2 linked regions of the Homo sapiens genome follow. The protein of the gene in region 2 interacts with the protein of the main gene of each other region in a pairwise test. Each region holds a gene or a part of one and is shown on either strand. Other genes may lie near its edges. The genes, in order: FAM124A and NKAP.

Evidence for each region.
Region 1: the proteins of NKAP (region 2) and FAM124A interact in a two-hybrid assay, tested with the Homo sapiens proteins (one large-scale study listed by BioGRID and IntAct).

The regions. Positions count from the first base shown.
Region 1 is NC_000013.11:51,249,714-51,253,533, reverse strand, and holds part of FAM124A (protein FAM124A), read right to left. Parts: intron 2,067-3,820; coding exon 1,333-2,066; coding exon of another isoform or gene 1,261-1,332; exon of another isoform or gene 1-1,260.
Region 2 is NC_000023.11:119,936,933-119,940,752, forward strand, and holds part of NKAP (NF-kappa-B-activating protein), read right to left. Parts: intron 1,879-3,820; coding exon 1,798-1,878; intron 1-1,797. UniProt on the Homo sapiens protein: Acts as a transcriptional repressor. Plays a role as a transcriptional corepressor of the Notch-mediated signaling required for T-cell development. Also involved in the TNF and IL-1 induced NF-kappa-B activation.

The sequences.
Region 1 (3,820 bases), on a different chromosome or scaffold from region 2:
AAAGATGTGGCATTCTTCAAACACAGAGACAATTTTTCTCACATTTCAAAAGGGATTATAGAGCAAATGCTAGCATATTGAATAATAAAACATTACTTAGTTCCTTATCTGCACAGTTCAAAAGGAAGTTTCAAAATTATCTAGTTCCTATAAATAGTAAGTATCTCAAGGTGACCTTTCTGACGAGAAATGAGGCCTGGCTGTAGTCTGAACCAGTTATCTGACATGTGCCAAATTCTGACTTCATTTCATGATATGTGGATTATAGTTCTGGTGCTTAAAGCCAAAACCAACAAAAACGATGAAACTTTACCTGTGATTCAAGTAACCACAATCTTTGCCTCTTAAGGCAATGTCCCCCAATTCACTATCAACTTTCTCTTTTCGGGTAGCCAAGTGTGAAAATTGAGACGTCAGAGGTAGAGGCTTTTCAGAAAAACAAGGCCCTATACTCCTGGAACTAATTTACTTGTAAAATCAAGAAAGCCTGGGTCTGGAAAGCATTTCTCAGGTAGGACCAGATGTAGGATGTTCTGTAATATACATGCTGAATTTTGAATTGAGTATAACTAATTATCTCTAATGAGTCTGGGACAACCCCTGGAAGGATGAGAGGAGAAAGGGAGCTGATGATGAAGCTAAAGAGTTTACCATGGAAGGACTAGGGCAGCCTACTTAAAATGAATTCCTTCACCCCTTCCAAGCTTAGTGAAACCAGAAGCTCCCAAGGCATCACTTACTCCTTAAAATGTTTAACGGGACATCCTTTTCCAAGTGATCACAGGATTTCAACAACCTGCTGCCCAGCAGTAGAAGGATGCAAGAGTAGAAGGTGGGGGAGGCACCTGAAGGAAGAGAACAGCTATCTCCTCTATGAACATCAATATATATTTTAAAATTTCCAGATAGATGGGCTTTCCTGAAGTTCCTTTGTGGGAGGGAAGAATCCAGTGGTAAAAACTCTCTAAGTACATGGGCATAGATTCAGGAATCTTTAATAGCAAATTCCCTAGCTTATAAGCTCATTTGAAATCCCCAGGAGTCATGGGTGTTTAGTGGATGCCCAATAGGGGAGGACAGAAGGGGCAGCTGGAAGAATTGGGAACATGTTTGCTGAAAGTGAAATGAAGAGAACCAATGGGAAGAGTCTTTCTTGCCCCCTCTTTTGTTGGGATCCTGTATGGCCACTTTGACTTCGACTAGGAGCTGGGCAGAGGGTCACTGATCTCTCCTTCCTTGATCATTGCTCTGTGACTGGTACTATAGTGTTTGAGGCAAAGCTAACTGGTTTCTCAGGTCCCCTAAACAGACAGACAGGCGTCCCCCCAGTACCTGTAGGAGGATCTTGTTCCCATCATGGTCCTCCGTCTGCCAGCGCCCCTCGCTGATGGGGCTGCAAGGGTTGGGCAGGAGAGGCACGAGCTCGCCTATGTCCCTCACTCGGAACTCCAGCACGGAGGAGTCGGTGGGCACCGGGCACTGGTCACAGGGCAGTCTTTTCAGGGAGAACTGGATGTCCACATCCAGGTTGGAAAAAATAGGGAAGATGCAGAAGTCCGCTTTCTTCTGGCTGGGGCTCCTCCGGAGAATCAGCTGGTAGAACCTGAGGCTGTCAGCATAGTTGTCGTAGCGACAGTAGACGGTGAAGCGCACGATTTCCTTGCCGTAGTGCACGGGCCGGATGGCCCAAAGCGGCGTCCCAGGGGCCAGCGTGAAGAAGTCCTGGCTGCAGGGCAGGTAGGGCAGGAACCGGCCGTGCACCTGCTCGGTGTGGTGGTGGCGCCAGGGCGGCTGCTGCAGTGTGCGGTGCAGCTGCAGGATCTGCTCTTCGCCGTACTCCTCCTGCAGGAACAGCACCACAGCCAGCGCTGGCTGAGCGCCCTTGGGGGGCTTCCGCCGCCGCCGGGACGCCCGCCTCTCGGACACCCGGAACAGCGGGAGGTCGGGGTGGATCCACGCCAGGACGTTGTCGATGGCCTCCTGCAGGGGCTGGGACTCCCCTGGGTCTGCGATTATGTGGATGCTGACCAGGAAAGGGTCCTGCGCCTCTTCAACGGAAAGCTCACCTGGGGGCACGCAAAAAACGAATGGATGAATGAATACAATTATGATTATTTCATTAAAGTGTCCAGTGATGACGTGTACAGGCTTGACAGGAAGAGAAGTCAAATTCTAACTGAACTGACTCCATGACCTGTGATTTTCTGATCCCAAGTTTACCTATAAAAACTACTATGCCAGCACCTTAGCAGCCAAAGAGGAAAGGGCTGTTGCTACGTGAATAGTTTCTAAGCTGGACAGGGTGAGGAGAACCTTGGTCCTGTATTTCATCAGGTTGGTTGGTATAGGGAACATTTGACTTTATATTTACGTATCAGACAAATAGAAAGTCAAGTCTAGTGACTTGGAAGGAACAACAGGCCCATTAGAAAAGATGGCATAGCATCTTGTGGACACCATTTAGTATTTCCTGAAATAGCTGCAGGGCCTTGCCCCATACATGTTCCCTACACAAACGCACTCCTCTGGTTTGCTTATTTCATTTGTTTATTTTGTTAACACACACTCATGGGCTCCTTCCTACCTGCCTCACAGGGAGTGAGGCACAAGGCGAATGATGGAGGACAAGAGAGACCTGTGCTTGCCCCCTGGGGCTTACTCTATAGACAGGTCATGCCCTGGCTGTTGATGAGTCCTGCCCACAGTGTCCCCTATTGTGGGGTCCTGGCCAAGATCATGTTGCTGCTGGAGACACAGGGAAGGATGACCCCCAGAGCCAAGCACAGTGTTCTTGCTGTTGGAGCTTACTGGGGCTGAGGTTAGGGTGGAAGGAAAGCAGGGTGAGACCATGACTGCCCATGAAAGGCTACCTTTTGTGTCCCTTGCTGGGCCACATCCACTCAGAAGCCCACACAACTTGAATGGGTCGGTTACCCTCCCTGTGATCTCTGGCGGAACACCTGAAACTGTTGAATTCCAAGCATGAAGTTGACTGTTTAACTTGGCAACAGTTTCCCATGGGGTGACAGTTTTTTGGCCACACTTGGCATATTTCTAAATCATATAACTATACCTGATAAAAGGCTTGCTCTTTTAAAAGATGGTTCTATTTGCATTTATAGAAGTTTTAGGTCTCATTTAAGGGAATTGAGACATCTTTAGGCCAATTGTGATTTAGGGGGCTAGATTCACCTAGAATCTAGATCTGCCTTTACAAAACACATGCCTCACAGTGTCCACTAGGGGTGTCAGGCATACAGTGATCATGTGGTCAATTGTGTTCTATCAATGTGGTGTGCTTTTCAGAATCATAACCTTGATCAAGTCACAGGATGAAAATTTTTTTATGGTAGGTAGACATTCCAAGTGGGCTTACAAGTCCATTTCACCATGTACAGCTGCAATAACATGGTTTTAATTTAATCAGATCAAAACCCGTCTGAATTTTCTTCCCAACCCTATTAAGTGTCTCACTTGAAAACAGTCCAGCTTGCTGTCTTCTCTCTTATTCATGCATTCATTTGCACATCTGTTAAGCAATCAGTTTGTACCAGGCACTGGGGACACAAAGAAGCTGGCACTAATTATGTATGCCCAAGCACTATGGGAGTACATTTACGTATACTCTTGCATGATATGCTCCCTGAGAACTGTGCAGTGCACAACCTGCACAACCATAGGCAGCAGCCCTCTGAAGACCCATAAGCCCATAAGATGAGAACTTTGTGACTGAGTGGGGAAACACAAACATCAAAAAGTAAAATTAAATCTGATATATGCCTAAAAGGAATACAACGGAATAGTAACTTGGGGTGGGGGC
Region 2 (3,820 bases):
ATCATTTGCATAACACTTTAGAGTTTACATAGTACTATTTAAACAAAGCAGCATGGAGGATTTATATTTTCACAAGAAACCACAGGGAAAAAGTAGAGAAACAGGAACCATAGGAAAGATTAAAGAAACTGGGTATAAGAAGGCTGAAGAAAGACTTTATAATTTTATTTTAAGCACGTAAAAGACAAATGGTAAAGCAGCAACTGTTCTGTCTCCTCAGAGCAAAAACCTAACAAACTACAGTCTAAAGAGATGTTGTTCTGTTGCAGAGAATTCTGAAAATGAGTATTATTCAAATTCTACAATAGTTTAGAAAAGGAGTTTCCACATCATATAATCTTTTCCTCTGAAGATCATACTTGGAGTAATTTAAATATTATCTAGAAAATTATTTTGGCTGGGTGCAGTGGCTCACGCCTGTAATCCCAGCACTTTGGGAGGCCGAGGTGGGCGGATCATGAGGTCAGGAGTTCAAGACCAGCCTGACCAACATGGTGAAACCCCATCTCTACTAAAAATACAAAAATTAGCCAGGCATGGTGGCATGCACCTGTAATCCCAGCTACTCGGGAGGCTGAGGCAGGAGAATCACTTGAACCTGGGAGGCGGAGGTTATGGTGAGCCAAGATCGCACCACTGCACTCCAGCTTGAGTGACAGAGTAAGACTCTGTCTCAAAAAAAAAAAAAAAAAAAAGAAGAAAGAAAACTATTTTTAGGGTTCCTTCCAACTCTAATTCAATACATTCAGGTTCTTCAAGTGTTTTCTTTTTTTTTTCTTTTAAATAGTCTTGTTATTTGCCCAGGCTGGTCTTGAACTCCCGGGCTCAAGGAATCCACCTGCCTTGGCCTCCCAAAGTGCTGTGATTACAGGCGTGAGCCACCGCACCTGGCCTCTTCAAGCATTTTCTAAAGGTATCTGTAAGAACAAGTTTCAGATAATAATGCTTTATTATCCAATCACAAATTACAGGTTTACCTGTCAAGCACATTGTCTCAACTCAACCTAAAGTTGGCACAGAAACAGAGAGGGAAGAAGAAACTTATGAGTAGCATCAAAGAGAAAAGAAATAAGCAAAAAGAAAAAGCATTAAGTCTGCAGATAGTATTGGATATAGGAATATTAACAAAACCATACTGGTATATTCGTTTTAAAAAATCTCTTTGTAGGCTGGGCGCAGTGGCTCACGCCTGTAATCCCAGCACTTTGGGAGGCTGAGGCAAGCGGATCACGAGGTCAGGAGCTCGAGACCAGCCTGGCCAACATGGTGAAACCGCCGTCTCTACTAAAAATACAAAAATTAGCCGGGCATGGTGGCAGGCACCTGTAATCCCAGCTACTCGGGAGGCTGAGGCAGGAGAATCGCTTGAACCCAGGAGGCGGAGGTTGCAGTGAGCTGAGACCGCACCATTGCACTCCAGCCTGGGCGACAGAGCAAGACTCCATCTCAAAAAAAAAAATCTCTTTGTAATGTTAATATCTGGCATGCAATCTGCCACTGAGTTTAGTTGAGAAAAAATAATTCAAAATAATGTGTATTATTTAACAATGAACCCTTCTATTAATAGGAAAATTATATTCCAGGAATTATTTTAGATTATGCTAAAACCTACTAGCAACATGTTTTAATCTTTAGATATGTTCTATGTTTTTAAAACTTAAGGGGTAGAAGAACATAAATCACAAGAAAGAAAAATGTGAGATATATTTAAAGTTCTTCACTTAAACATTTTCACAATAGATTCAGGATTTAAACACATATTATAACATTTTAAAAATATATTTTTTAACCACTTACTCTGGTTCAGGATTCTTTGGAGAAAGTCCCCATACTTCAGGAGCTCCCAATTCTCCAATTCTCTCTCTCTCACTTAATCTCCTAGCAGATAAAGACATGTAAATTATAACTCAATGGCTGAGTTGTTTCCTAAATATATAATCAAATTCAATAGGAGTCTAGTTAAGCCTTTTTTCCCTTTATATTTTAAACATGGATAAAAACTTGGTTTAAATGTAAACTCATCACTTAAGGTCTGATGTTCTGATGATACTATCAAATGGTACAGACTATAGAAATGATGGCCTGGGAGACTGTCAAGTGCATCCATTCTGCTGAATGCATGACACAGCTCTTAACTGCTCATTTCATCATCTGTAATATGTGACAGAAACAGCTTCACATTTGTAAGTAACTTCATTTGTTTACAGATTTATGAAAGGTGAAGAGAAGTCTCTTTTGATATGGTCAAACCTTCAGTTTTCAGAAATCGAGGAATTAATGAAGAAAATAAAAATGATGCATTAGACGTAGAAAACAACTGAAGTTCTGAAAATGAAAGAAAAGTTTTTATTTTATTTTATTATTTATTTTTTTAGATGGAGTCTCGCTCTGTCGCCCAGGCTGGAGTGCAGTAGCACGATCTTGGCTCACTGCAACCTCCGCCTCCTGGGTTCAAGTAATTCTCCTGCCTCAGCCTCCTTAGTAGCCGGGATTACAGGCATGCGCCATCACGCCTGGCTAATTTTTGTATTCTTAGTAGAGATGGGGTTTCATCGTGTTGGCCAGGCTGGTCTCAAACTCCTGACCTCAGGAGATCCACCTCAGTTGCTGGGATTACAGGCGTGAGCCACTGCACCGGGCCCGAAATAAAAGTTTTTTATTTTTTTGTAGAGATGAGGTCTTGCCGCCAGGTGCGGTGGCACATGCCTGTAATCCCAGCACTTTGGGAGGCTGAGGCGGGCGGATTGCTTGAGATCAGGAGGTCAAGACCAGCCTGGCCAACATGGTGAAACCCCGTCTCTAGTAAAAATACAAAAATTAGCCAGGCGTGGTGGCGCATGCCTGTAATCCTGGCTACTAGGGAGGCTGAGGCAGGAGAATCGCTTAAACCCAGGAGGTGGAAGTTTCAGTGAGCCAAGATCGCACCACTGCACTCTAACCTGGGAGACAGAGCGAGACTCCGTCTCAAAAAAAAAAAAGAGGTCTTGCTTTGTTGTCCAGGCTGATCTTGAACTCCTGGCCTCGAGCAATCCTCTTGCCTCAGCCTCCCAAAGCGTTGGGATCACAGGCATGAGCCACTGCACCTAGTCAAAAAGTTTCATTTAACAAAAAATATACTTGGGGCTGGGCGTGGTGGCTCACGCCTGTAATCCCAACACTTTGGGAGGCCGAGGCAGGTGGATCACCTGAGGTCAGGAGTTCAAGATCAGCCTGGCCAACATGGTAAAACCCTGTCTCTACTAAAAAAAATACAAAAATTAGCTGGACACGGTGGCATGTGCCTGTAGTCCCAGCTATTCAGAAGGCTGAGGCTGGAGAATCTCTTGAACCCTGGAGGTGGAGGTTGCAGTGAGCCAAGGTCACGCCACTGCACATGACAGCCTGGGTGATAGAGTGAGACTCTTATCTCAAAATAAAAAACCAAAAAAAAAAAAAAAAAAACTATACTCAATGAGATACAAGGTTTGTTCCCTCTCTGTTTTCCTTTTAGTTCCTTTTTGGAAAAGGAGTGCATTTTGTATCTATTCTTTGAAGGACACTAAAATTTGTTTCTTCTTTTGTTTTATGCCTATGGTTTCTTCTGTTTTAATTTTTGTTATTCCTCATAAACTAAAAAACAAAACAAAACAAAGACTAAGGCTCATTCTCTCAAATTTTAGCTGCTTGTGACTCCATTTGTTTTTAAAAATCCTTCCAAAATAAATATAATTGCAATGAGTTTTTGTATAAATCGTTTTTGCCTCCTTAATCAGGGGAAAAGGTATTATAACTATGCAGAGTCAGACTGAGAGGGTTTCCCACCTGAAGTAACAGACAATTT